Linked DNA regions of Homo sapiens: regions 1, 2, 3, 5, 6 and 7 are each linked to region 4. The links come from fine-mapping of genetic effects on gene expression. A gene starts in region 4. Each other region holds a variant in brackets. All regions are shown on one strand. Distances are between the middles of the regions.

Region 1 (4,065 bases), 30 kb before region 4:
TGAGGTCACAAAGCCACAGGTGAAACCATAGAAATAAACAAATGACTGGCCCGGCACGGTGGCTCACACCTGTAATCCCAGCACTTTGGGAGGCCAAGGCGGGCAGATCACGAGGTCAGGAGATCGAGACCATCCTGGCTAACATGGTGAAACCTCATCTCTACTAAAAATACAGAAAAATTGGCCAGGCATGGTGGCGGGCGCCTGTGGTCCCAGCTACTCGGGAGGCTGAGGCAGGAGAATGGCGTGAACCCAGGAGGTGGACCTTGCAGTGAGCCAAGACCGTGCCACTGCACTCCAGCCTGGGCGACAGAGCAAGATCCCATTTCAAAAAAAAAAAAAAAAAGAAATAAACAAATGACCATACCAGAAAAAAAAAAAACCTGCACTTGAAAGTAGAGCTATCTTGGCCGGGCGCAGTGGCTCATGCCTGTAATCCCAGCACTTTGGGAGGCTGAGGCGGGGGTATCGCATGAGGTCAGGAGTTTGAGACCAGCCTGGCCAACATGGTGAAACCCCCGTCTCTACTAAAAATACAAAAATTAGCCGAGTGTGGTGGTGGACACCTGTAATCCCAGCTACTCGGGAGGCTAAGGCAGAAGAATCACTTGAACCCAGGAGGCAGAGGTTGCAGTGAGCCGAGATCACGCCATTGCACTGCAGCCTGGGCAACAAGAACGAAACTCTGTCTCAAAACAAAACAACAACAACAACAAAAAGTAGAGCTGTCTCAACAACCAGCTGGGGAAGAAACCATAGACAATCCAAAAAAGACAGAGCAGTGTGCCAAGGCATAGGCCAGGACTTCCCAGAGCTAGAGCCAGGGCTGGAGAGACTTCTAGGAGGCCAGTGACGTTTGGCCTGCAGCCCAAGGGGGAGTCTTTGGGAACCAGAGAGGCCAGCACCACCTCATTTAGCCACAAGGACAGGAATCACAAGGGCTCGGCCAGCTGCAGACAGAAATGCTGGTGCCCTGGGGGACTCTTAGGAAACAGTCCTGGTAGCAGTGCCAGCTTGGCTTTTCTGCCAGCTGAAGTCAACATAGCTTGATTTAGGAGCCAACCTGGAGTCAGTCGGGGCAGCTGATTCCCCAGAAAGACGACTGAACTGACAAGAACATTTTAGAAGCAGCCCAGGCAACAGGAGCACTGGTCCATTCACATCTGATTGAAGACCAAACTCAATTAAGACTCAATATGTTTTTAAGACATTTTTTATGACTATGGCTTCCCAACTGGCTATTAATTTTGCTATCACCTGTTTCCCTCTAGTCAACACAAGCCAAACCTCTTAAAAAGCCAAAAATATGTGAATTCCAAAAGGTCACGAGGTGGGAAAGACACAGAGAGCCTTGTGTTCTTCCTGGACGGCCCAGGAAAGAGGCGCCCAAGGAAAGGAGAAGCTGATGCACCTGGGAAGGCAGATGGATTCTTGGGTCCTAAAGGGACAAAGGAAACGTAGGAGCAGGGGATTCATGCAGAAACCCTATCAAAGACCAACCGCTCTAGTGACCTCGGAGCTCAAGGACAAGCAGCCCGCAAGCTGTGCTGTTTTCCAGAAAGAATCCTTTCAGCTTCCTGCCTCCCCTTCCCTGCCCCACTCCTGTCCGCCCCCCAAATCCTGCTGACCCAACCACCATCCAATTTCATTTGCCCTTAGCCCCGGGAAAAACTGGCTTATGGTAAAAGCATTATCTTGTTTTTTCCAATTGGAAGACATAAAAACAGTCCTAACCAAAAACTCTGGTCATTAACACTCACAGAGTGCCCTGGGGGGCCTGGGGAGAAATCCCCGCATTGACTGGGGCTGGAGTCACGGTGTCTAGGTGTAATTGCCACAAATCTGCCCAATCACGCTCCTGGCCTATATCCAATTAACCCTCTTCAAGTTCAGTCCCGGAACCCACTGAACTTGGACAAGAACATAAAAAGGATTTTGATGGTCCACAAAGTAGATAATTCATGTACTTTAATTCATCTACTATATTTTCTACTATATTCATCTACTATAATTCATCTGTTTCCACAATGCCATTTTCCACTCAGGATTAAACTCCATGTCTTCTCTGCCAAGCACTTTGACAGCCTTCTGATAAGCTTGTCATACCACACATGGTCACTTTTCAGTAGCATGGAGGCAACAGGTACTGGATAATTCAGGATATCGAGCAGAAGAAAACAGAAGTTGACTAATCCACAAACCATTTATTTTTAGTTTGAGAATTTTAATGAAACACACACACACGTATGTCCAATCACACTCCTGGCCTATATCCAATTAACTCTCTTCAAGTTCAGTTCTGGGACCCACTGAACTTGAAGGGACAAGGGTGAGGACAAGGACATAAAAATGGACAAGAACATAAAAAGGATGTTGATGCTCCATAAAGTAAATAATTCATTCACTCAGAAAACACTTTTTGAATGGCAATCTGTACACAGAAAACAGATGAGAGGCAAGCTTTGGGTGAGCCAGGTGTCCAGTGAGAAGGTAGCAGAACAAATTTAC[CT/T]AAGACCCAGCCCTGCCCTCCAGAACCTCAGTGTGTGTTTAGGAACAGGACTTAAAGTATAAAGATAGTTGTGAATAACCAGTTCACATCATAGGGGAAGGGTCAACTAACAGGTATTTGAGTACCTAGTATATGGATTTTTTGCACACTATCTCACTTAAAAGTCAGTATTTGAAGAAAATAATATTCTTCTCTCTCTTTTTTATCAAACTCAATTCTTTTATCTTCAATTCCTTTAAATCATGAATATGGCCGACCACAGTGGTGCATGCCTGTAATCTCAACAATTTGGGAGGCCGAGGTGGGTGGATCATCTGAAGTCGGGAGTTGGAGACCAGCCTAGACAACATGGCAAAACCCCACCTCTATTAAAAATAGAAAATTAGCCAGGTATGGTGGCTCACACCTGTAATCCCAGCTACTCTGGAGGCTGAGGCAGGAGAATTGCTTGAACCCAGGAGATGGAGGTTGCAGTGAGCCCAGATCATGCCACTGCACTCTCGCCTGGGTGACAAAAGCAAAACTCCATCTCAAAAAAAAAAAAAGAAGATAAGGGTTCATGAAGATTTTCCCATGATCAGCAAATTAAAAAAAAATATATAGAAGTGTCTTATTTCTTTGCAATCAAATACCCCAATCTGCCCTAACTCCAAGGGCTGGTCACCATAACTATAACCCATCTACAATGCAGTGCATGTTCTTTGTCATCTACACAGCCTCTGCTACAACAAGCTCCTAGAAACACTTTTCCAAACTCATGGCTAGGAAGGCCATTGTGTCTGTGATTGTCTGAATATTCTGTTAACTCCGCTGTGTATTACGGTGTGCATTAAGCATTAAAGTGATTGTTCTCACTGAGCTCAGACTCAGAGTTGGGGGGAAATTACAGGAGCACAAAGGACTAGCCCCAAAAGAACCTCCACTTCAATCACCAAGCCATACCTGGAACTACCCATTTGCAGACTTGAAATTTGAAAATAACCCACCCGTATACACACTCTACATGTTGAGAGATACTTGTTCTTATCACTCAGAATGCTCCCATTCTCCTGGAATTTTTTGCCCATTACTCACATTGGGGAGTATGAAGAGGAGGGGAAAAAAAAAAAAAAACAAAACAGCCTTTCACTGTTTCCTTATCTAGGATACTGTTCATCCTATAAATCAAAAAAGGGATTTGCATCAAATTCTTTATGACCATTTTCTTCTCAGATTGATTTTAGTGAGAAGGTAATTGTGATGGTTAATTTTAGGTGTCAGTTTGACTGGATTAAAGACTACCTAGGAACCCGGTAAAGCATTATTTTTGGGCGTGTCTGTGAAGATGTTGCCAGAAGAGATCAGCATGTGAGTCTGAGTGGACTAGGTGCGGAAGATCCGCCCTCATTGTGAGTGGGCACCATCCATTCTGCTGGGGGCCTGGAAAACAAAAACTGAGAAAAGGTGAATATGTGAATGGAACTGCCAGAGTTGGATTATATTCTTCCTCTCTCTGTCCCTCAGTGGCTCTCTGAGTTCTAGGCCTTTGGCCTCAAACCGAGAGTTACAACATCAGC
Region 2 (4,065 bases), 57 kb before region 4:
CTCTCAGTCTTGTCCCCTGAGCTTCAAACGGTGTAGCCAATGGCCTAGTGTTTCTATCCACTGGCACACTCCATGAGTAGTTCACTCTACATGACTAAATTAAACTCACTGCCACCTCTGCTCCTCAAATCCTTCGTCCTCGACCCACTGTTTTAATGATAATAATACTAATAGGCACATACACATTAACCACAGGCCAGGCATGATTTCAATTTTTTTTTTTAACTCTTCTAGGACCCTTTATCTGGGGACATAAATGGACAGGCTCCCTGGGTGGGTGCTGACAAGCCCTTCTCTCCCCTTAGTCCAGTGGCCCCTGAATCTGCCCCACTTCCATGCCCAGGTGGATACCATTCCTCTAGCACCTGCCGTTCCTGGGCCATCTAAGGGGTCAACCTTAAGGGGGTACGCAGAGAGGTAAGGACCGCCCCCCCCTAACTATTTTCCCTGAGCTCCAAATTTCCATCGGGTCCCACGCCCCTTCCTCTGTTGACCAGGGTGCACCATGGACATGGAGCCACATCTTTATGTTGCTCTCTCTTCCTGTCTCCCTTGAGCATCGCTCTTTCACTGCATCCCTGATGCTCTCATGAGATACACTTCTAGGGTAGGGCTCCCCATCACTGAGTGTGACAGTGGAGGAGGAGGGCCAAAGCTTTCAGTCAGGGCCATGGGGTGGCAACGGGGGAGGAGGAGGGCCAAAGCTTTCAGTCAGGGCCGTGGGGTGGCGAGGGGAGAAGATCCGGCTCCCCAGGTTCACACCTCCGTTCCGACACGTCATCACCCCCATGGCCTTGTTCTTGATGCCTGATGGCCATATTAAGTCACTGGGCTGAAAAATTACTCAAGAGCAGGGACCATGTCTTCATCTTGGAATCCCTTACGTGGTGCCTAGCAGACAGCAGGGCCAGGCAGCCAGTTAATGCCAGGCCACAGGTTTTCCATTATACCATGCCCAAATGCCCGGCCTGGAGAGCTCCGGGGGGAGGTATCCATCCTCCACAGCCCCGGAGGGGCTAGGACTCAACTCTGAACACCTCCCAGGTGTGATTTTTCTCACAAGAATATTTGGGAGCTACCTGGTGCTATAGACTCAGTGTTGGTGCCCCACCCCCAAATGTATATGTTGAAATCCTAACCTCCAGTGCAATGGTATTAAGAGGTGGGGCCGTAAATCATGAAAGTGGAGCCCTCATGAATGTAATTAGTGCCCCTATAAGGGGGCTGAAGAGATCAGAGTTCTCCTTTTTACCACGTAAGGACAAAGCAAGAAGACAGCTGTCTATGAAGAAAACAGGACCTCACCTGAATGCCCAAATCTTGATCTTGGACTTCCCGGGCTCCAAAATGGAAAGAAATAATTTTCTGTGATGTACAAGACACCCAGTCTATGGTATTCTGTTACAGCTGCCTGCACTAAGACACTCGGGTGCTCAGTTTCTCAACATAACTCAGTGGCAGCTGGGTGCCGTGGCTCACGTCTGTAATCCCAGAACTTGGGGAGGCCGAAGCAGGCAGATCCCCTGAAATCAGGAGGTTGAGACCAGCCTGGCCAACATGGTGAAACCCTGTCTCTACTAAAAATACAAAAATTAGCTGGGCATGATGGCGGGCGCCCAGCTAAACCCAGCTACTCAGGAGGCTGAGACAAGACACTTGCTTGAACCCAGGAGGCGGAGGTTGCAGTGAGCCGAGATTGCATCACTGTACTCCAGCCTGGGTGACAAAGCAAGACTGTCTCTAAAAAAACAAAATCAAACAAACAAAAAAAC[G/A]TAACTTACTGGTTTCCAGTCATCCATAAAGAATACTCACTCCTTATCACAGCAGGACGTGGCATGACCAGGCACTTGCCTACCTGTCCAAAGGCCTTTCCTGGCCACTCACTAGCTACCCCTCTCCTAGGATATGGCGCTGCAGCAACACTGAAGTATTTGTGGTTCCCGAACATGCCTTGCTTTCTCCCGCCTCCATGCTTATGTACATCTTGTTCCCTGGCTTGCAAATGCTGTCCATGTGACAGACTCCTACTCCTCTTGCAGTTCTCAGCTGAAGCACAGCCCCCTCTGTAGAGTTTTCTGGAAACCCTCCCACCCCTGCCCTCACCCCAGAGTAGCTGTGTTTCTCTGGGGCAAGTTTAATTCCCCGAGCCTTGGTTTTCCTAAACTCTAATATGCAGATAATGGCATGTACCTGATAAGGCTGTTGAGAGGAATATATTTAAAAATGTATGCAAGGTTTATTACACAGGTTTAAGCACAGAGTAAGCACTTAGTGAACTTCTTTATTTATTTTCTTTTGAGACAGAGTCTCACTCTGTCATCCAGGGTGGAGTGCAGTGGTGCGATCTCAGCTCACTGCACTCTCTGCCTCCTGGACTCAAGTGATTCTCCAGCCTTAGCCTCCTGAGTAGCTGGGACTACAGGCGCACACCACCACACCCAGCTAATCTTTGTATTTTTAGTAGAGACAGGGTTTTGCCATGTTGGCGGCTGGTCTCAGACTCCGGGCCTCAAAGGGATCCACCCCCATCGGCTTCCCCGATTGCTGGGATTACAGGCATGAGCCACCACACCCAGCTTGTAAAATTCTTCAGTTTTATTACCTTACGCATAATTTCTTAAGTCATTTATTACATTATATTATACTTGTTTATTTGTAAGTATATCACACCATAAGAGAATCAGCTTCTTGAGGGGAAATACCACAACTTAATCTATTTATCTGGAGTCTAAATATGTGACATTTGCAGATGCTCAATATTCTACACTTTCTTTCTGCCTTTGCTTTTTCTTTTTGTTTTTTTTTTTTTTTCTTTTTTGAGACAGGGTCTCACTCTGTCACCCAGGCTGGACTGCAGTAGCACAGTCTAGGCTCATTACAACCTTCGCCTCCCATGCTCAAGGGATCTTGTACCTCAGCCTCCCAAGTAGCTGGGACCACAGGCGCATGCCACCATGCCCGGCTAATTTTTTGTAGTTTTGATAAAGACGGGCTTTTGCCATGTTTCTCAGGCTGGTCTCAAACTCCTGAGCTCAGGCAATCCACCCACGTCGGCCTCCCCAAGTGCTGGGATTGCAGGGGTGAGCCACGGTGCCCGGCTTTGTCTCTGCTTTGTCAAGAACAGAAGGGTGTAAGATCTGGTAGGAAACTGAGAGTAAAATGTTATGATAGCCAGAATCAGAGTGCAAGCAGCTACCATTTATTAAGCATCCACTTAATGGCTCTTTACGAATGTTTTCTCATGTATTCTTTACAAGAAAATCCAATGGACATCAAATTTTTACAAAGGAGGAAACTAAGGTTGAGGGTTGAGTAACACTAAGTAAATTGACTTTACAAATGCACAATCAGGCTGGGTGCAGTGGCTCACGCCTGTAATCCCAACACTTTGGGAGACAGAGGCAGGTGGATTGCTTGAGGTCAGGAGTTCTAGACCAGCCTGGCCAACATGGTGAAACCCCATCTCTACCAAAAAATACAAAAGTTAGCCAGGCATGGTGGCACACACCTGTAGTCCCAGCTACTCGAGAGGCTGAGGCAGAAGAATCTCTTGAACCTGGAAGGTGGAGGTTACCGTGAGCCAAGATCATGCCACTATTCCACCCTGGGTAACAGAGCAAGATTCTGTCTCAAAAAAAAAAAAAAAAAAAGAATGAATTAATGTCCTATATTCCATACACACACACTTCGGGGAAGTTACCTATTTTGCTTTCTACTGGACACCTGGAAGAATTATTCTTATCTCTGAGACAATCTCCATTTCCTAATAAACACATTTTCATAAAAATCAACCCTTCTTGCTGATGCCACACCCACTCAGCAAATGTATGTCACAGTCCTTCAACCTACGCTCTACTCCTGTCAAGGTTCCAAAGTCTTTCCTTCAGGACAGAGCGTCAATGTGAATAAGGAAAAAATCTTTCTCAGAAATCCTTAGGTTTGAACACCGTATTAAGGTATTCCACCCACTGCTGTGTAGAGTAAGGTAGCTACGTAGTCTCTGAATACTATAACCGTTCTGAACCTTACACAAAAGCAAGAAAAGAAAATGTTTTATTAAACCAG
Region 3 (4,056 bases), 180 kb before region 4:
CCAGAATGCTGATTGTTCCTGGGGCTGGGACAGGAGGTCTTGGGGCCACCTACGGGGGTGCTGGCAACACTGGTGTTACTGTGGCGAGGGCCTAGGGTCCCTTGGGAACAAGTCCTCTCCTCTAAGCCATGACCTCCCCGTGCCCTCAGCGTGCCCTCTCCTCTTGGCACACAGGATCGCTGATGCCCAAATGCTTTGTTACAGCTGGATGCTTAGAGGTCCCTGCTGTGGGAAGAGTTTGGGGGAAGGGGAGGAGGCAGAAGCACAGAGGGTCAAAGCATGAACCCCCAGATCCTAGATGTGAGGCCCGGCCTAGCTCCTTCTTAGCTGCATGAGGTCAGGCAAGCACTAACAGTTTGAGTTCCAGCAGCCTCATCGGTGTCCACACACAGGGTAGCTGTGAGGTCTGAATGAGATAACGTCACGTGCATGGCATAGAGTGGGTGCTGCCAGCGAGTGAGAGCCACTGTGCTTTACTAGATGGTGAGCCCTGTGAGGGGAGGGACAGGGTAGGTCTTAGGGGCCGGCATCGAGTGCCTGGTGTGTAGTGGGAAAGGGTGAAGCTGCAGGGCTGGTGAAAAGGGAGGGCAACAGGGCCTGAAGGAGCTCCCGAACCACAGAAGGCTGGAGAGAGGGTGTCTGGGCCCTGAGGTGGCCGAGGGAAGGAGGGTGTGTGGAAAGAAGAATAAGGAAGGGAAGGAAGCAAATGTAGAGAGGGAAGAAGTGAGGATGAAGAGGGAGGAATGGGGGGTACAGTCCCAGCAGAACGGACCAGAGAAGCGCCGCTGCTCCATGAAATCCCGCTGGAAGGGCGAGTTGGTGAAGAGGAGGTCATAGAGCTTGTCCACGCTGAAGTTGAAGACTTCATTCACGTACTGCCGGCCACTCAGGTCCTCATAGAAGGCCTGGACCTCTCCTGCACAGAAGAGAGGATCAGGAAGTAGACAGTGACAGCGGAGGGGGAGGGGGCCCCAGGGACATCCTCCAAGAGCACTTAGGTCTCTGGCTAATATGAGCACAGTCAACAAGGGTATGGAGAGGACACGGAGCAGGACAGCTGAGCTCGTGGGCATGGTTTATGACTTTGCTTTCGGTCTCTTTCTTTTGCTGGGATGCACACCATTTCCTTTAGCTGACACTACCCATTCCTTCTTTACAAAGTGTTTGGGAATGTACGATTTGCTTTTACACTTTCAAACCTCCCTAATTCAGTTGATCTTAGACTAAAATTCAAATAAATGACTACTTCTGGAAGTTGCCTAAACCCAAAGAATGGGGTTTTGAGAGTCTGTAAGTTAACTCTAATCGACAACAAATTGTAGTTGTAACCCATGGCATAGGTCTGTTCGAGGGAACGTAGACTAATCTGGAAGAATCAGTGTACAGAACTGCTGCTAAGGCTGGGGCTGGTCCAATAGGCTGTGATCCCTAACTACAGTTCCATAAGACAGCCTATTTCTACCATGATGTCAATACCTACTCCCCTTTTTAAACTTAGGATTACAGCTTCATCATATAGCAAAATAAGAATTCAAATCAGAATGAGAGGCACACAGAGCAAGGTGTGGGAGGGCTCCAAAAATGGAGCTTCCTTCAGTCTCAGGGATGCAAAGCCCTTCTGGCACATCACTGTGTCCATATACAGAAGATTGCCAGCCAGGGAATTTCACCTGTAATCTGAATTTTCCAGCTGCTACAGGAGGATGCAAATGAGGATACAGGAGAGCTGCTAAAGCCTCAGTGCTCCCCCCCGAACCCTTGGCACCCCTCAGTCCCTAATTACTGCACCTGCATGGGTGGGTATGTGATCTCAGGAGGAGGCTGCCATTTCTGGCACCCCTAGGACCCTGAGGAAACCAGAGAACTCTGAAGTACCCTGTAGGGGTCAAGTCCTATGACTGCACAGATGGGTACTGCACAAGTGCAGCGCAGCGGGTATTCACACCTTAGTTTATGTGAAAGGCACCCTGGAGTTAGGCAGTATCTAACCCATGCAGTCACTTGTGCCAACCCTGGACTCTAGATGGGGGTGGGTAAACCAACCAAAAGTTAGAAAACCACTGCAGGTGGCCCCTGGGAGAGGTGTCCACAGATCCACAAGTGAGCACCGTGCTCATATGCTCACCAGTCATAACAGACCACTCACTCAATGGAGGAAATCCATCAATTGATTTCATGAATGCTGAGAATTTGGCTTCTCTCCATGGAAGGTAAGCAGCAGCATGTTCCCAAGGGAGGTTCTAGAAGCTAATCCTATGCAGGCAT[G/T]AAGTTAGAAGCTACCTGCTTACAAAAATTAGAGAAACAAGGGAGTCTCCAAACCCTATTTGACCCAGCAACACCTTTTCTTCTAGCTGGGCCTAAATACCCCATGCAGCAAAAATTGCATTAACAAGTTTCGCAGCTATCTTGAGGACGTTTCTGTTAAAATCTAATTATTTCCAGGGAGCAGCTGACTGGCACCTTCCTTGTGGCTTATAAACATTGCCTAGACTTGCGTGTCTGTGAGGGTCAGGGTCGCAAGGCAAGCCAATGTCAATAGGGGGAACATTTAGTGACAAGACTAAATGACAGAACAAAGCATTATCTATGGGAGGCTCCTACAGCAAATGACTGAAAACAGGGATGTAAACTAATAACAGGTACCTTTTGTTAAGGAAGCTCTGCTCCCATCTCTCCACCAGGAACCTAGAGACTAACTACAGTCCCCACATAGAGATCTCCTTTTAGCCTTCAAAACAGAGCAAGGGCCACTCCAGACCCATTTTCAAATGCCCACCTTCATCGTGTGTGTCGGAAGAGTCACTGAGCTCAGTGGGGATGTCCTCATTGTCATTGAAGTCCAGTGAAGGGGAGTTCACAGGAGCGATCATCTCAATCTTCTCCCCCATGATGTTGTCAATGGCGAGCTCCTTTTCCAGGGACCCGTCTCCCTCCAGCGCCTCTTCCTCCAGGGGCAGCCCATCAAACTGGAGCCAAGACAGAGGAGTCACCCACCAGGGAAACCTGGTCTGGATCTATTCTCCAAAGGGAGATTAGGGATGCAGCCTTGGCAGCTCTCATACTCCCAGCTCAGCTGCTCAGGAGCGAAGTCAGAGTCAGGCTCCAAAGCCCTTCCCCAGAGCTGCCACAGAGGATGGGCAAACACAGTACAAGGACTACTGCACTTCTCACGCTCGCCATTCCAACAGCACAACAAGCTCCCCAAATGCACAGAGCTGGTCCCCACAGGCCCAGGCCCTTTCCTGGAGCCGCACCTGCACCATCCTGCAACAAGGTCAGCCTGCCTCCAGGTAGTACCTGTTTATCCTAAGAAGCTCGAAAGGCTTCATAAGCATTTTTTAAAACTCATTCTCTCATTAGCCCTGGAAGGGAATCGATACAACTCTTTACATTTTAAAGATAACCTCAGAGATGGAAAATAAAGACCAGGTATCCAATGAATAATGTTTTCATTCTGAAGGCAGGTGGTCTGATCCATAGCCTACTGAAATACAAGGCTCTTTGAGGGAGTCCTTTCCTGAAGAACCCTACCTGTTCTTCTGCCTGCCAGCACATGCCCTGACCCTCTTTCCTCATCAAGGTTCTACCTCCTCTATTAACAGAGTCCCACAGGACAGAGGTTCTCTTACACATTTTTATGGCTTCCATAAAGTCTACCACAGTGGAGAAATAAGCCACAATACGTATACTCAACAAATATCAACCAAATGAGTGGATAAACAATTAATTGTTCTATAGTTCTATATTCATGCATGACTTTGACGTCAGATCAAGGCAGTGAAAAAATACCTGGAATTGTTCTCTACCAGAAGGGCTGATCAGCAGCAGCCCAGCACAGTGGGCTTGAAATGGTTTTCATCTGCTCAGAAGTCAAACCCAGTCTTGTACCCCAGGCACCTAGCCCCAGCTCTGGACCCCGGGCTATGCCACTAGAATACGGAGAGCCCATCTGCTCCAGAATGCCTCCTTGAAGAAACTGACAACAATGTAACCAATCTCCTCTCTACCTGCTCCCCAGATTGGGTTCCCAGTGAACTATGCTAGGAAACGCTGGCC
Region 4 (4,065 bases):
GCTCACAGAAATATTCAGTAAGTACTTACTGAATTGAAATCAATGTAATTGAACAGATTTGGAGAAGGAATTCCAGGGAAAGTGATCAATGACTCAGTTGCTCCGCACAAGAACACAAATCCATTAAGAGACAGGACCCTAAAGTCTCAAAGTAAATATGTAGGATTCGTGGTACCGATGAACAAGTGAGGACTCCCTGCCCTCCACCAGGCAAGGGGCTTGGCTCAGACACAACTTCCTGAAGCAGCAGTCCTGACCAGGGCTGTGTAGAGCTGCTCTAGGGCGCCCTGCAGCAATTCTCTACGTGAGGGAAGCTCAACCTTCTCCCATTACCCAGATGCCACATTGACCTAGGCAAAAAACTAGCTGGTACAAACCACAGTCTTGTAGGTATCGATGTCTAAAGACTCTGATATGGTAGGAAATGTGACTCACTCAATGTCAATATTTCACTTCCACACAAGTGAGCCAGTTAAGGCAATCCGGTGTGGCCAAACATAAAATAAGATTGAAACGGAGTCCTGAAATATAAACCACTTAACTGTTCTCTGGCCTTTTACTATCTCCTTCTGTAGAAAGGGAGCCATAGTAATACCTACCTCAGAGAGTTTGCGTAGGGATGAAATCTGGAGGTACATGAAGTGCGCAACATAGTGGCCCGCACATGGTAAGGGCTCAATAACTATTAGCTGTTATTATTTTTATTATTTATTTCGCTGCGAGGATCAAGGGAGATGGAATGCAGCGTAAAGCCCCACGTAAACGTGTCGTGCAACATGAAGCCCCTCACCCTGAGTTGGGGAGCGGGTGGCACGCGTGGAAGCTGAATGCCACCATCCCTGGGACCAGGCGCAGCGCCCTCCAGAAGCGCCTCTGGTGACGGGCTCCTGTTCTCCCCCAGGACGTTTCCCCCAGAATGCCCCGGGGCCCTGGACGGCTCTGGAGAGGACGGGAGGGAAGGGAAGGAGACGGGCGGAACGGGGACGTACCTGCTTTCACTGCACTCCTTCCGCTCCCTCACCCTCAGCCACTTGCGGAGGAGGAAGCGTTTTCGGCGCGGGGACGCGCTGGGTGTGGAGCAGTTGGACCACGGGGTGTCCTCGTCGCTGGAGGGCGTGATCTCGATGGACGGCAGCTGCAGGAACTCCTTGCCGGGGGCCAAGACGGCGGGCAGGTCCCGGGCCAGCCCGGCCTCCAGGCTCTGCTCCTGTACGTTCTTCATGCGGCGCATCTTGAAGCGCCGGCGGCGAAGCGTGGGGGTCGACGAACTGGACCAGACCGGGCTGCCCTCGGGCGCACCCTGCGGCTCGGGCACCTGCAGGGCGGGCAGCGGCCGGTTCTCCATCATGTTGGCCGCCGGCATGGGGGCCGTCGCCTCTGCGCTCCCCCTGAGCCCTCCGCCAGCGGCCTGGTTCGCGTCTCCCTCTGGCTGTTCCCCACCCTCGGCCCCGCGGCACACTCCCCAATCCTGGGGCCGAAGGAACAAGTTCCTTTCCCGGAGCGCAGCGAGGAAGGGACGCGAGGGGACGCGGCGTAGCGCGCCGCCGCCCGGAGTCTAACTTTTCGGAGCGCGCGTCCTCCGGGCCGTCAGCCGCCGGCGAGGCCACCCGGGAGGGGCGGGAGCCGCCTGCCAGCCACTCGGCAGCCCTCCTGGGGCTCCCCTCGCGCGCCCGCTTGTTTTTCTTCCGCTGCGCTTCCTCGCTTGCTGGCGTCTTTGCCTTAGCGGGACTCGGCAGCCAGGGGCCCCAGGGGGCGGTGCAGCAAACTCTCAGCGGTTTGCGTTCAGCAGACCAGGTTGGGGAGCCGGCTTGGCGCTGCAGGGAGGTAGAGAGCGGGAGGAAGAGGCAGTGGTAGGAGGGAAAGGGAGAGAGAGACAGAGAGAGAGAGAGAGAGAGGAAGCGAGACACTGGATAAAAACAAAAAAGGAGGAGGAGGAGCGGGGGCTGGGGGCGGGGTGAGGGGGGCTATCCTGAATGGGCTAGCACTGGCAGCGACCGCTAGTGTAACTGTACACGGATTCCCTCGGGGAGGGACTCGACCTCCAAGTAAAGGCTGCTCCAATCAGCCTACTGAAATAGGATCACAAACCAAACTTTCTCAGGGCAACGATTGGCCAGGCAACTCCCATTAGTCGAACTCGGCTATTTCCTTGGGGGTGGGGGGTGCAGAGAAAGGGGAGTCAATGAATTCAGTCCTCACTCTCTCAGGCCACCCATGATACAGGGTTGAAGGAAAATGAGGAGACTTTTCAACTAGCTCTTGTCTCCTAAGAAAGGCAGTTTAAATTATTTGGGGGCGTGAGTAGTGGCACTGCAGGCCGGAGTATAGTCAGAGGAGGAAAGCAAGGTTGCTGGAGGCTGCTTCCAAAATGACAAGCTGAGAAGAGGACAGTTCTCCCGTGGCGGCGTGAGCTGAGGATACCAGACATGACATACCAAGGAAAGACAGACAACAGGGTCTGAGAGACAAAGGACACAGGACCAGTAAGGAAAATGGGGCCTGAACCCTGTACATGAGCCAGCTGCCAGTACCATAGCCGCGTCCCTAGCAAAGAATGAAATGAGGAGTCGGTGAGCACCCACAAAGCAATGCATCCAACAGAGCCCCAGGGAGTCGAGGGTACCCCCCCTTACATTGCTGAGGGCTGATTCAGTTCTGCTTCAGCCTGCCATGGACTGAGTCACAGAATCCAGTATGTCCCCATGTCATGGAACCTAGGAAGTCTGGTTCAGTCCTGGTAGCATCCCAAGATGTGCTGAACCACACTCACTCTCTAGACCCAGGCCCTAAGAGATCATCAACCCTAGAACCGATCCATCCTATTTAGGTGCTCTCTGTGGGCACTGAGTCTAACCCAGCCCAGCTCCTAGAGCAGGGCTGTAGCAGCCATTCTCCTCCTTCAACCCCAGCCCAATGCATTTGTCTCTTGGGTCAGTAACTGTTTTGTTTTGTTTTGTTTTTAAGAGACAAAGTCTCACTCTGTTGCCCAGGCTGGAGTGCAGTGGTGCAGTCATGGCTCACCGCAACCTTGAATTCCTGGGCTCAAGCTGTCCTCCCAGCTGAGCCTCCTGAGTAGCTGGGAGTACAGGTGCGCACCACCACACGCAGCTAAGTTTTATTTCTTTTTGTCGATATGAGGTCTTGCTATATTGCCCAGGCTGGTCTCAAACTCCTGGCCTCAAGTGATCTGCCCACCTTGGCCTCCCAAAGTGCTGAGATTACAGGCATGAGCCACCATGCCCAGCCTGGTCAGTAACTTTCAAAGAGATCATGAGAAGCACCCAAGAACATACCATGAAGTCCACAATCTGATCCACCCTTCTTTTCTGCCTCTCTCAGAGTCCAGTTTCCATCTGGGAGCCAATGCCCAGCTTCCGTGCCAGGACAAAAGTCACATTTCACAAGTGTCCCGAAGCTGAGGAAAATTCACATCCCTAAAGATCACAAGAATTCACTGCAAGTAAATACATCCCTGCAGTTCAGCAAGACATCAAGGATGACAGCTGGCTATGGATCTACCAAGCTCTGCAATGACACTTGTCAAGTATGGAAAAGCTCAAGGCATCCTGACATTACACAACTTTTGAGAGGCTGGGAAACCAAGGGAAATATTTCTTCCTCAGGGAGAGAGATACTGCGGCTGAAGAGCCAAGGCCAGGCCCTCCCATAAATGACTCCCTGGAATGTCAGCCCCCGTTTCTGAAATCCAGCCACTGGCCCTCTCAGGAGTGATTTGGTTTCACTCTACTTTAACTCCTGGACATAGCACAGAAAGCAGAAACCCCTTGCCATCAGGTGTCAGGCCTGCCAAGGTCACCTCTTCCGGCTCCAGGGATGCTGAGGAGATTGCACTGTAACTCCAAACTTCAGGATCGGGAGCTAAGCCAAGTTCCACAGAGTTTGTTCACTGCCTTGTACTTCCTCCAAGGACGAGTGTTTTGCAAGGGATCTGATAACTTCCCAGTTCAAGGAACCTGAGTTTTGGGCGGGCTCTTGACATAGAAGATGAGGGTCTCAGGGGCTTATGGGAAGAAAGGAAGCCAGGACACCACCATTCGCTTGGAG
Region 5 (4,065 bases), 130 kb before region 4:
TCCTCACGGGGCACTACTTTTTAATCATGGCCTTGACATTATCAATCTCCTGCTCCGGGTGGCTCCCAAAATCATCCCTTTCCCTTACCCTTCTTCCAAGGCCAGCTTTTTTCATCTTGGTTCCAAACTTCTCTAACCTGCCGAGTGCTATCCAAGGCAAAGGCTAGAAATATGACCACCATTCAAGGTCAGCTGCAGAGGGAGGAGAGGCAGGAGGTAGAGGAGCGAGGGGGTCTCCCCGGAGCACAGTGTGCTAGCAAGTACCAGAGAAGAGGCAAAGATGGCTTTCTCTAGCCCTGCCTGAGCTCTTGGCTGAGGCCCCGGGGACAGAGCAAGCTCCAAGTCCTCCCCCAGCCCTCTACTTCCTAAATCAAGCAAATAACTAACAATGCAAGGAGGTGTGGGGGAGTAAGGCCCAGCCACTGGGTAGCTATTTTCTCAAAATACATGGCAAATCTCTGCGCCAAATGCTGGCTAAGCCAAAGAATAAACAAATCCTTTTATTTCTCTGAGATGAGAGCTATCAACTTCCCCTTTCATCCTCTCCTTCTGCTGGCCAGATCCATCTGTCCCATGGCCCTCTCCCTGTGGGATAAGCAGTGTCTGTCCATATCTTCCTGACCACAGCTCTGGCCAGCTCCTACCCCCGCCGGAGGCACTGCGGAGGGAAGCCAGCAGGTGGAGAACAGGAGCACATGGCCTGTCCACACCTCCCCCAGAAGCTCTCAGCCAGTTCTCCATGATGCATTGTGCCACTAATTCATTCCTCTGCCCTCCTTTCTCCAAGTTAGAGGGCACTGAATTAAGTCTTGCTGGACAAGGAGACCATCATCACCCTCAACCCAGCCTGTCTCTCCAGCCCACCCCAGGGCCACCCCTCCGTGATCCAGAGCTCAGCTCAAGCAGTGCTACTATAGAGGAGAAAAGAAAAGGCTAGGGAGGGAAAAGAAGGTGGCATCTCTGCAGCATGATGTCACACTGGCTGCTTTCGGATCCCCAGAACAGAAAACAGAAGCAAACAACATGGACTCCGGATTTACTCTGCCTTGAAAGGTTTGTGTTCTTGGCAGCTCTGAGCAGCCTGCGTCAGATGAGAAAAGCACACAACCAGAAAGACAGGTCTTCACCACAGCCCCCAGGGCCCCATTCTGACCCCAGGACAGAGCCACCGCTTCCAAAAAATCCCACGAGGAAACAAAGATACACACACACACACACACACACACACACACACACACACACACACACACACACGCACCAGGCGTCAGCACGAGTTAGCACTAACCTGGAAGCCATTAGGTAGGAACAGTAGCAGAGTGCAGTGCAGAGAGGAACTCATTCATTCATGCATTGGGCAGTGGGGGGCGGGGGCGGGGAGCGGGGGCCCTGAGGAGGCTGGAGGGCACTCACCTCCATGACCATCCCAAAGCCCTGTTTCTAACGGGGGAGGGGACTCGGGCCAGGGCTCTCAGAAGCTGGGGGCGCTTCTTTGCTCTGCTGTTTCACACCGCTGTAGCATTTTAAGCATGACTCCCCTTTATTTCCCTCTCCCCCACCTCCCTCTGCTGCTGTTATTTGGTGTGGTCGTGCCGCCTTACAGAAGTCCCTCTCTCTCTCTGCCTGGCTCCCTTTCTCTCTCTCCCTCTGACTCCCTCACAGACAGCTGTTCTGAGCTCAGGCACGCACGCGCACAGGCGCACAGACACACTCAGACACGCACCCCTCTTGCGCGCAGACACGCACACGCGCACACACG[CACACACGT/T]CGCCTGCCGGTTTACATAATGCAACTCTTTGGTGCAGTCAGCTTGCCGGCGCTCAATTATTCATGCCAGCGTGGAGGACAGAGCCGCTGGGGCTGCGGGGGGGGGGGTTATTTCCTCTTCACCCTCAATCCGACAAAATACAAGACCATGTTCCCCGGAGACTCTGCTCCCTTCGCTGCCACCAATTATTTCCCAGGTGCTGCCCACTAGGTCGACCTGTATCAAGGAGGTGACACTAAATAAAAACACAGGTGCCTGGCTCTAAAGAGAGTCGTGCATCCTTCAAAGGATGGCGGCTCTCTCACGGCCCGAGGCCTGGGAGTAGAGGAAGAGAGGAGGCCAGCACTGAGACCATAATCCGCAAGAAAAGATGGCCGAGGGCCTCTTCAGTGTAGCTGCTCCCAGACTTCCAGGATGCTCGCTTCTCCCGCAGGTCAGGCTCTCACAGACAGCAAGAGTAACACTCAGGGAAAGCACTTACATTCGTGGCAAAGCAGAGTCGTCTGGGTCTTCTAATTCTAAGCTGCACCTCTTAGAAGTGTTTTTTTTTTCTCTGTCCATTCACCGAAATGCAGTATTAGTACTCAGACAGCCCCCAGAGGAAAGTTCTGGCAGTGCGAGGTATTCTATTCAGCAACGATATTAATAATATTTTGAAAGTCATTCATGACTTACAAAGCATTTTGCCTACATTCAATCATTTCATTCCCACCACAATCACCTAAATACTGACCTGTTTAGTGGATCTGGAAACTGAGTCCTGGAAAAGTGAAGGTCCCATGCAAGAAAGAGGCAGAGCTGGGAATCCAGATCACCTGCCTCTAGACCCATGGCGATTAACTAATTGCCTCACACCCCAACTATTTGAGAACCATTGTCATCTCTTGAGGGATGTAGCACAAAACCGACAACACTAACAATGATGATGGTTAGCTCAATGCCTGGGAAACTTTAATCCCCTAAGAATCTTCTTCACCCACAGATTCTGATAGAGCAGGTCTAGGGGACCACCCAAAAGTCAGCCTTTCTAACAAACCCCAGGCGATGCCCACGTTGCTATTCCGGGACCACCCTGAACAGCAAATGTTTGGCTTATGCATTCTCATGCTTTGAATCTTCCAAAAAGACAGTTTTGTCTGTCCACTGCAGCTGCATAGGAAAACATGCTGAAGGTGAATAATAATTACAATCCATTGATGTCACCTGCATCCTGCTCGAACTCATGCTGAGAGCTAATATTTCTTGGGCATCTGTTGGCAAAATGTCTCATTCTGGGAGGGCCAGCCCCTGCAGGCTCATCATGAAAAGTCTTTCCAAGATTGCTTCTGTCTGCAGCCCGTTGATAGAACAGCAGCCGCACAGTATCCGGGAAGCAGATAGTTCTGGGCTGTCTGGCCCTGCCTCCGTTACCTAGAGGAATCCCAGCTCCAAAGAAAGGTATATTGGCAATGCCCCAATTTCAGCCTCCCTCCTTGTCTGGCTCAAGTCCGACTTCTTCTGAAATGCCTTTCTGGCTCTTCTCTGTTAATCCACGGAAAGATCTTGGACTAGAGTCAGATCTGAAACCAAAACTGAGTTGCATTGCTTGTTGGTCACCCACGTACTCTTATCTCAAACTCAGTTTCTTCATCTGAAAATGCTAATACTACATATTTCCTCCTTTGTACTGTTGAAAAGATGATGAAGTCAAAAAAGCATGTGAAAGCACCCGAGAACGGTTGGGTACCTCTCCTGCCCCTGCCCTTACAGTATACATTTAGAACTTAATTGCAGGTTCTGTTGTCCTCTGTTGGTTTTACATCCCTGAGAAGATCGTAGGCTATTTTTTCTTTCATGTCCCTCCAGCATGTAGGAGTACTGGGTACACACATATTCAGTAAATATCTTTGGGCTGGGCATGGTGGCTCATGCCTGTAATCTCAGCAGTTTGGGAGGGAGAGGCGGGTGAATCACTTGAGCTCAGGAGTTTTAGACCAGCCTGGCCAACGTGGTGAAACCCCATCTCTACTAAAAATACAAAAATTAGCCAGGCATAGTGGCACACAATTGTAATCCCAGCTACTCGGGAGGCTGAGGCAGGAGAATCTCTTGAACCTAGGAGGCAGAGGTTGCTGTGAGCCATGATCGCACCACTGCACTCCAGCCTGGGCGACAGAGCAAGACTCTGCATTAAAAAAAAAAAAAAAAAAAAAAAAGTTGCACTGAATGTCCTTTCCTCCATTAAGGCATAGACACAGGGGTTGGTGGAATCAAGTGGCCAGAGTCCTAGTCCTAACTTCCCCACTCACTTACTATGTAAC
Region 6 (4,065 bases), 37 kb before region 4:
TTTTTCTCCTCTCCTTATACTCCACAAGTAAAGATTCATATGAACTAGAAATGCAACCCCACATCAGTTTGACACCAAGTCCTACAGACCTTACTTCTTTAGTGACTCTCGAATCCATCCGCCTTCCATTCATCACTCCGACGGCCTCTGTCTGAAACCAAGCTCTCATCACTCCTCACCCAGATTACTTTAATAGGCTCTTCACTGCCCTCCCCATTGCCACTCTGGCCCCACTCCAGTCTATCCTGACACTGAAACAATGGTCTTACAGAAACACAGATTTAATCATGTCTCTTCCTGGCTTAAAATCCTTTAGCCTTCCCATGATTTCCGAGCAAGTTCCAACTCCTTATCTGAGCAGTAACAGCCTCATAACCTGGCTATTGCCTCTCTACCCAGCTCCCTCACGTCACCTCCGCTCTCCACTCCAGCCCTTCTACTTGCCTCTGCCTTTTAATTTGCCTTTCTACTGGCCTGGTAGAGCCTTTTCTCTCACCCTTCTTTGTCCCAGCTTTGGACTGCCTGAGTTCAAGTCGACTCTTCCACCTACGCTGCTGATGTCCAACCTCTATAAAATGGGGGTGACAATAGCATCTATGTTCTTGGGGTTTTGGGAGAATTAAATAAACACCCACACATACTTGGAGAGATGAGTAGACACACAATATTATAGCTACTATTATTCTTCAAAAGTAGTAAATCTTCCTTGGTGACCACCACCCACATTATGGTCCTATATCACCCTGCACTACTTTTTTTTTTTTTTTTTTTTGATACAGGGTCTCAATCTGTCACCCTGGCTGGATGCAGTGGCAGGATCTTGGCTCACTGCAACCTCTGCCTCCCGGGCTCAAGCAATCCTCCCACCTCGGCCTCCTGAGTAGCTGGGACTATACAGTTGTGCCACCATCACACCGGGCTGATTTTTGTATTTTTTGTAAAGATAAGGTCTCACCATCTTGCCCAGGCTGGTCTTGAACTCCTGGACTCAAGGAATCCACCTGCCTCAGCCTCCCGAAGTGCCAGGATTACAGGCGTGAGCTACCGCACCTGGCCTGCACTAACCTTTATCATAACAATTATCATACTCCTTGGGATGCAGCGATTAATGATTCATTTCCCTAAACCTTCTACCATACTATAAATTATTTGAGAGCGATGGTCCCATTGTGTCATTTTTTTCCACCCACAGTGCCTAGCACATATTAGGTGTATAATACATATCTGATGAATGTGCAAATATCTAGCCCTATCCTCCCTTGATGTATTTGTAAAAGTCTCCACTTCCACTGAGTACTCACTGGTCTGCCCAGAAAGACGCCTTGCTGAGTACTCTCAAATCAGCACAGATTGCACCTTCCTTCCTTGTGCATACTTTTTGAACATCTATGTTGAAAGTACCCTGAGGCTGGGTGCGGTGACTCACACCTGTAATCCCAGCACTTTGGGAGGCCAAGGCGGGTGGATCACGAGGTCAAGAGATTAAGACCATCCTGGCCAACGTGGTGAAACCCTGTCTCTACTAAAAATACAAAAAAATAGCTGAGTGTGGTGGGCATGCCTGTAATCCCAGCTACTCGGGAGGCTGAGGCAGGAGAATCGCCTGAACCCGGGAGGCAGAGGTTGCAGTGAACTCAGACTGCGCCACTTCACTCCAGCTTGGCGACAGAACGAGACTCCATCAAAAACAAAAAAGGAAAGAAAGAAAGGAAGGAAGGAAGGAAGGGAGGGAGGGAGGGAGGGAGGGAAAAGAAAAGAAAGAAAAAGAAGGAAGGAAGGAAGGACCCTGCTAGGCCGTGCTGGATGTGTAAGGCATGGCCCGTGACCTCAGGGAACCCACCACTCCTGATATGTCATTCATCCATCCATGTTTCCACCAACTATGTTTTAGGCATTGGTTCCAGACATCTGGCGATGCCGACTTGAATTAGACATATGTGGACCTTCCCCATAAAGAAGCCACTGTAACAAAACCCGCCAGAATCTTCCTAATGCCAGGGCTCCTCTTTCCTGCCCCCGTGTCAAAGTTG[T/C]GGTCCAATTCTCAGTTATCCAACATGAGGAAGCTGCATCTCAAGCCTGACAGCGCCTCCATGAGAAGGTGGGCAGGAAAGAATATGGCTCTCCATTTAGGCACAACCAGTGAAAGTCAGTAAAAAAAAAAAAAAAAAAAAAAGGTGTTGAAAACCAAGGCTACAACGTTTTTGTTTGTTTCTTTCTGAATTATCTATGAGTATTAATTTTTTAAAAAATTGAGACAGGGTCTCCCTATGTTGCCCAGGCTGATCTTAAACTCCTAGGTGCAAGCAATCCTCCCACCTCGGCCTCCCAAAGTGCTGGGATTACAGGCGAAAGCCACCACACCCAGCCTATCTATAAGCTTTAACTTTTCATGCCAATCCTTAGCTCTCGTGAATACAGATCATGAAGCTCTGGCTAGGAAAAATAAATAAATATTCTTTATCCTTTTTCACAAAGGGTAAATGATCCCTCACCTACAATAAAATTCTAGGCCTATCACCACACATAATTAAAATAATTATACTTACCCCATTATATTCCTCAAATGGGTTCTGAGAAAAGGGGCAAGGAGAAACTGTCAGCTTTAACTCTCTTCACTTGCTCTTAGGTAAAGGAGCACACCACCTTTTTCTAGTTTCCCACATCCTACTAGCTTCCTTGGCCTCAATCACTACTTAACTTCACAGTGAAATCTTCAGCTCTCTCAAGAGAATAAATACAAATTAACCAGATCCCTTACTAAACCTTTACTCAGAAGGTAATGTGGTCAACCAAGTTGCTTCCCAGAACTTGAAGTTTGTAAGAATTGGTCAAAACCCTGGACCAGCCTCAAGGCCAGCCTCCCTCCACTCTCCACACACGCACCATCCCCTCACTTTCCCCCACCCCTACTCCCTGGGTCCCCTTCCTGCCTGTGGAAAATCTCTTGCTTCCCAATGCAGAGTATCCATGTTGGAGAAAGAAGTCAGTGCTGAAAAGCTGCAGAAAGTTCTTAAGCCCAGGGCAAGCCAGAATCCATTTTATGCCCAAATCAGTCAGTCAATCTTTTTCTTTCTTTCTTTTTCTTTCTTTCTTTCTTTTCTTTCTTTCTTTCTTTCTCTTTCTTTCTTTCTTCCTTTCTTTCTTTTTCTCTTTCTTTCTTCCTTTCTTTCTTTTTCTTTCTTTCTCTCTCTCTTTCTTTTTCCTTCCTTCCTTCTTTCCTTCCTTCCTTCCTTCTTTCTTTCTTTCTTTCTCTTTCTCTCTCTCTCTTTCTTTCTTTTCCTTCCTTCCTTCCTTGACAGAGTCTCACTCTGTCACCCACGCTGGAGTGCAGTGCTGTAATCCTGGCTCACTGCAACCTCCACCTCCCAGGTTAAAGCCATTCTCCTGCCTCAGCCTCCCAAGTAGCTGATATAACAGGCGTCCACCACCACTCCCAGCTAATTTTTGTATTTTTAGCAGAAATGGGGTTTCACCATGTTGGCCAGGCTGGTCTTGAACTCCTGACCTCAAGTGATCCGCCCGCGTAGGCCCCACAAAGTGCTGGGATCACAGGCGTGAGCCACCATGCCCAGCCCAAATCTTTATTTTCAACAATCAGTATGATCTTGAGCCCTTTAACTAAACTGCTCCAGTTTAATGAGGAGTTCGAGTATTTTCTCCATCCATTTCCTCTCACAGAGTCAGGCCAGTACACACAGAGAGCTTTCACTTCTGTTTCCTACAATGTCCCAACTTCCTCTCCACCAAGAACCCTCAAACAATATTCCTAAGTGTGTTTCTTTTTTTTTTTTTTCTTTCGAGATGGAGTTTCACTCTTGTTGCCCAGGCTGGAGTACAGTGGTGTGATCTCAGCTTACTGCAACCTCCGCCTCCCGGGTTCAAGTGATTCTCCTGCCTCAGTCTCCCTAGTAGCTGGGATTACAGGTATGCACCACCACACCCGGCTAATTTTGTATTTTTTTTAGTAGAGATGGGGTTTCACCATGTTGGCCAGGCTGGTCTCAAACTCCTGACCTCAGGTGATCCGCCTGCCTCTGCCTCCCAAAGTGCTGGGATTACAGGCAT
Region 7 (4,065 bases), 44 kb before region 4:
GGCCACCTGGACCCCAGGCAACTCACGCTGCTCCCTAAATAAACCTACCAGTCTTCGGAGACCATGAAAAGAGCAACCTCCAGGCCAAGGTGTTTATAAAGGAGTGCAGCATGCTACAAGGTCAAAAAGCACACCTCCCTCCACTCCAGATTAGTCAAGGCCTTAGTGGGAGAAGACATCCAGTCTGCGTCCACTCTGGGATTCAGGAGGTTGAAAAGAACTTGGAGAAAGTCCAGCAGAGGGCACTAACAGATGAAACTGTCTGTTGGAAACCCTGAAAAAGAAACTCTAAACTAGGATTTGGAATGTCCTTGCCTGGGCACCGGATGACTGAAAGATGGCTTAACACTGCAAGGAAGGGAATTTGTATAAGCAACTGCTTGCCATTCGCTCAAGACAGCTAGATATGGAACTAGGATGACTTTAATCCCTCCTGCTGTACATTCAAGCTTCAGATAAAATTCACTGTATAAATTAAATTTTGGAACACTAGACCATGTTCCTAAATAAGATGGGAAGCTCTTGGTAAAATTCTGGGATATTCCTGAGGGAAACCAGCTGAAGCAGAATCCTGGTTTTGTTTAAGACCAGCGTGCTAGTGCAGGAGCTTATCCTGGAAGGTCACATTAATACCAGCAGCACTGGAAGGACTGGGAAAAATCCACAGGAATCTGAGCCAAAGCACGCTCCACAAGGGAGAAATTCACTAGGCTTTGACCAGGAAGCTCTGCAATGCGGGCTGGGCAAATTCTCATGATTCCAGTGATCTCCCTTCCTCCCTCCCTGTACCCAGGACACGTGCAGAAAGTACAGACTAAACCCACGAACCACCAGGAAGCCGTCCTTCTGCCCTCTGAAAGGCACGGCTTTACTGCTAGAAAGACGGAATATGGCAACCTCTACTGAGTAGGTGCTTCCTAGGGAGAAACAGCTCTTTCTCTTCCAGGCAACCCTACAGGAGTCATAGCTTCCTATGCCCAGAAGGGGTTCTGAGAGATTCAGGTGGTCCCAAGCCGTCATGGGGGCATGTAGGCTGTAATGCAGTATTTCCAGAGCCTGATGGAAACTACATTTACCCACACCCAGGCTGCAGAGACTAATGTACTGCATCTCTTTACTTCTGGCTGCAACTGAGGCAATCTCTCCTGTTAGTATCAATTATCTCATGCTAATTAGAAGCTGCAAAAGGCTCTGAGTGGCAGTTATAGATGTCTTTGTGTCTTTGTTAATAAAAATGGGGAAATATATTATTTTAAGCAGTGATACAGTAGAAATAGCACCAAGGCAGACAAACCTGGGTTTGCCCCCTGCCTTTATTTGTTTTTTGTTTTTCTGGATTGAGGTCCTTGGGACATAGGCTTTGTTTCTTATTAGCCTTCTAACCTTGGCCAAGTCACTTATCCTCCCTTAGCCTATTTCCTGAAAAATGGAGACTTATTGCGATTACTCACAACTTAGTCCTCTATTTATAGAACTGCACAGAGGATTAAGTTGTGAATAATCCAGTCACAGTATCTGAGTTCAGGATATGGCGTCAGAGAGACGCACATTCTAGTCCTGACTCTGCCACTTAGCAGAGGGGGAGATTGAGAAAATTATTTCACTTTTCTAACAGTCAGATGTGGGTAATAATGCATGCCTTAAAAGACTGCAGTTCTGTTGGATTCAAGATTGCCATTACTTTAAAAAAAATTAAAAGTTAAAAAAAAGAAAACATTGCAGTGGGGATTAGAAATGGTAGAAATCATCTGTAGAACATGTTTAGGGCAGTAGCAGGCCCTTGGTGAGTGTATCATAAATGGTGGATATCTATTACACTGAGTATTCAGTTAGTGTGTCAGAATATTTTGAAATAGCCAGTGCATGGGAGAAAGATAACAGAAAAGGCCCTTAGCCTGAAAAGTAGGGCCTCACCACCACTGACAGAAGAGAGAGCTGGGTTTTCATGCTAAATTATTTCTACATATAAAATGACTCTGGCATTTACTATTTCAGCTTAAGTAGGAAAGGTGTATGGGGGAAGAGAAGGCAGGTAGCAAAGATGGAGAGAATAAAGGAGGAGTTTCTGTGTGCCACCTGGCAAGCAGGTATGGACAAGTCTAATAATAGAAAATAAGTAAACAAATGTGACTGGGGTACTGCCACCTCCTTACAGAACATCCCTCAATATCCTCAAACACCACTTAGAAATAACATACTTGAGGTGAATATTGAGAATTTGTCTACC[G/A]AGTTAGAAGGTTCACTTCTGCTTAATAGCTCCCATGGGAACCTGCAGCAAGGTGGGTAGAATCCCTGGTCAAAGATTCAGGGATTCAAAATCCAGCTAAATATCTTCCTAGCTCCTTACAACTCATGAATACTTCTCTATTTAATGGTTCTTGGGACTGGGTGAGGTGGGTCACACCTGTAATCCCAGCATTTTGGGAGGTTGAGGAAGGAGGATCTCTGGAGCCCGGGAGTTTTGAGACCAGCCTGGGTAATACAGTGAGACTTCATCTCTACAAAAAATAAATGAAAACAAAAATTAGCACGGTGTGGTGGTGTGTGCCTGTAGTCCTAGCTACTGGTGATATGGGAGTTAAGAAGAAATTGTCAGGGCACGGTGGCTCACGCCTGTAATCCCAGCACTTTGGGAGGCCGAGGTGGGCAGATCACCTGAGGTCAGGAGTTCGAGACCAGCCTGGCTAACATGGTGAAACCCCGTCTCTACTACAAATACAAAACTTAGCCAGGCATGGTGGCAGACTCCTGTAATCCCAGCTACTCGGGAGGCTGAGGCAGGAGAATTGTTTGAACCCGGAGGCAGAGGTTGCAGTGAGCCAAGATTGCACCATTGCTCTCCAGCCTGGGGGACAAGAGCGAGACTTCGTCTCAAAAAATAAAAGAAGAAATTATTTAGGCAGATAGTGAGGGTAAGGAAGTCCTCCGTAAGATTTTCCTGTTAATGAAAAGCATCCCCCAAATCATTTTCTTTTCTAACAAAGAGCAGCCTGTAAAATTTAGCTGCAGACATAGACAAGCAAGCTGGAAGCTTCCATGGGTGAATGCCAGCAGTTGTGCCAATAGGAAAAGGCTACCTGGGACTAGGCATGTTCAAAATGGTGGCTCCATCTTCCCTTCTCTTTGCCAGCCACATGTATGGTAAGGAGCAGACAACATGGTGCCAGCCAAGTGGAAAGCCCATCTGGATAATAAGATTAGGGTGGAGTGGCCAGCCTTCCCCCTGGGCTATGTAAACGTCACACCTGGTCCAACCAGTCTGTGAGCCCTATATAAATCAGACACCACCTCCTCAAGCCTGTCTATAAAAATCTGGTGCACTCCACAGCACCTGGCGTAATTCCCATTTGGGTGCCCCTCTCTCTCACAAGAGTGAGTTGTTCTTTCTCTTTCTTTCGCCTATTAAACCTTCACTCCTAAACTCACTCCTCATGTGTGTCTGTGTCCTTAATTTTCTTGGCATGAGATGACGAACCTTGGGTATTACCCCAGACAACAACGCTGCTTCACCGGGGAGGCCGAGGTGGGAGGAACGCTTGAGCCAAAGAGATCAAGGTTACAGTGAACTATTATCACACCACTGCACTCCAGCCCAGGCAACAGGGTGAAACCATATCACTAAAAAAATAAAATAGTTCACCTCTGAACATGCCCATGTCTGTGTTTAACAAAAGAAAAGGCTCTCTCTCCACTTCTTTCTTTTTTCTTTTTCTCTTTTTTTTTTTTTGAGACAGAGTCTTGCTCCATTGCCCAGGCTGGAGTGCAGTGGCATGATCTTGGCTCACTGCAACCTCTGCCTCCTGAGTTCAAGTTCCCACCTTAGCCTCCTGAGTAGCTGGGATGACAGGCCCGCACCACCATGCCTGGCTATGTTGGCCAGGCTTGTCTTGAACTCCTGGCCTCAAATGATCCACCTGGATTGGCCTCCCAAAGTGCTGGGATTATAGGCATGAGCCACCACACCCAGCGTTAGTTTTCCTCTCTTGATGGCCATTTTATTGCAAGAACATACATACTACTTTGTAATTGCTGAACTTCCATTAAAACAATATTATAATAAATTCA

Alleles and levels. Alleles are on the strand shown, and positions count from the first base shown. SD is a standard deviation of normalised expression in the study named. Not every link is listed here.
For the expression in thyroid of the gene that starts at base 1,887 in region 4, T is the high allele of the variant in region 5 and CACACACGT is the other (small effect, 0.23 SD a copy in GTEx).
For the expression in left ventricle of the gene that starts at base 1,887 in region 4, C is the high allele of the variant in region 6 and T is the other (small effect, 0.24 SD a copy in GTEx).

Evidence for each region. PIP is the estimated chance that this variant, and not a neighbour inherited with it, causes the effect.
Region 1: its variant is fine-mapped to the expression of GRAMD1B in whole blood (TOPMed, PIP above 0.99).
Region 2: its variant is fine-mapped to the expression of GRAMD1B in thyroid (GTEx, PIP above 0.99).
Region 3: its variant is fine-mapped to the expression of GRAMD1B in whole blood (TOPMed, PIP above 0.99).
Region 5: its variant is fine-mapped to the expression of GRAMD1B in thyroid (GTEx, PIP above 0.99).
Region 6: its variant is fine-mapped to the expression of GRAMD1B in left ventricle (GTEx, PIP above 0.99). The same link has a PIP of 0.9 or more in monocytes.
Region 7: its variant is fine-mapped to the expression of GRAMD1B in whole blood (INTERVAL, PIP above 0.99).

What each region holds. Positions count from the first base shown.
Region 1 is chr11:123,458,249-123,462,313 of GRCh38, reverse strand. The region is part of intron 1 of GRAMD1B (GRAM domain containing 1B); the gene reads right to left. Among named protein-coding and RNA genes, the nearest start is that of GRAMD1B, 30 kb to the right of the region's middle. The variant CT/T (reference allele first, on the strand shown) is at 2,509.
Region 2 is chr11:123,485,301-123,489,365 of GRCh38, reverse strand. All of the region lies in intron 2 of GRAMD1B (GRAM domain containing 1B), which reads right to left. Among named protein-coding and RNA genes, the nearest start is that of GRAMD1B, 57 kb to the right of the region's middle. The variant G/A (reference allele first, on the strand shown) is at 1,773.
Region 3 is chr11:123,605,519-123,609,574 of GRCh38, reverse strand. It overlaps GRAMD1B (GRAM domain containing 1B), which reads right to left. Exons shown (of 20, transcript NM_001387025.1): 11 at 2,777-2,966; 12 at 773-916. Among named protein-coding and RNA genes, the nearest start is that of SCN3B, 47 kb to the left of the region's middle. The variant G/T (reference allele first, on the strand shown) is at 2,266.
Region 4 is chr11:123,428,091-123,432,155 of GRCh38, reverse strand. It overlaps GRAMD1B (GRAM domain containing 1B), which reads right to left and starts at 1,887. Exons shown (of 20, transcript NM_001387025.1): 1 at 990-1,887. The coding sequence starts at 1,363. It overlaps LOC124902776 (a long non-coding RNA gene), which reads left to right and starts at 942. Exons shown (of 2, transcript XR_007062928.1): 1 at 942-1,209; 2 at 3,340-4,065. RefSeq lists silencers at 1,260-1,309, 1,420-1,749.
Region 5 is chr11:123,557,873-123,561,937 of GRCh38, reverse strand. All of the region lies in intron 2 of GRAMD1B (GRAM domain containing 1B), which reads right to left. Among named protein-coding and RNA genes, the nearest start is that of SCN3B, 95 kb to the left of the region's middle. RefSeq lists enhancers at 464-1,127, 1,128-1,790, 1,791-2,454. The variant CACACACGT/T (reference allele first, on the strand shown) is at 1,757.
Region 6 is chr11:123,465,503-123,469,567 of GRCh38, reverse strand. All of the region lies in intron 1 of GRAMD1B (GRAM domain containing 1B), which reads right to left. Among named protein-coding and RNA genes, the nearest start is that of GRAMD1B, 37 kb to the right of the region's middle. The variant T/C (reference allele first, on the strand shown) is at 2,031.
Region 7 is chr11:123,471,890-123,475,954 of GRCh38, reverse strand. The region is part of intron 1 of GRAMD1B (GRAM domain containing 1B); the gene reads right to left. Among named protein-coding and RNA genes, the nearest start is that of GRAMD1B, 44 kb to the right of the region's middle. The variant G/A (reference allele first, on the strand shown) is at 2,228.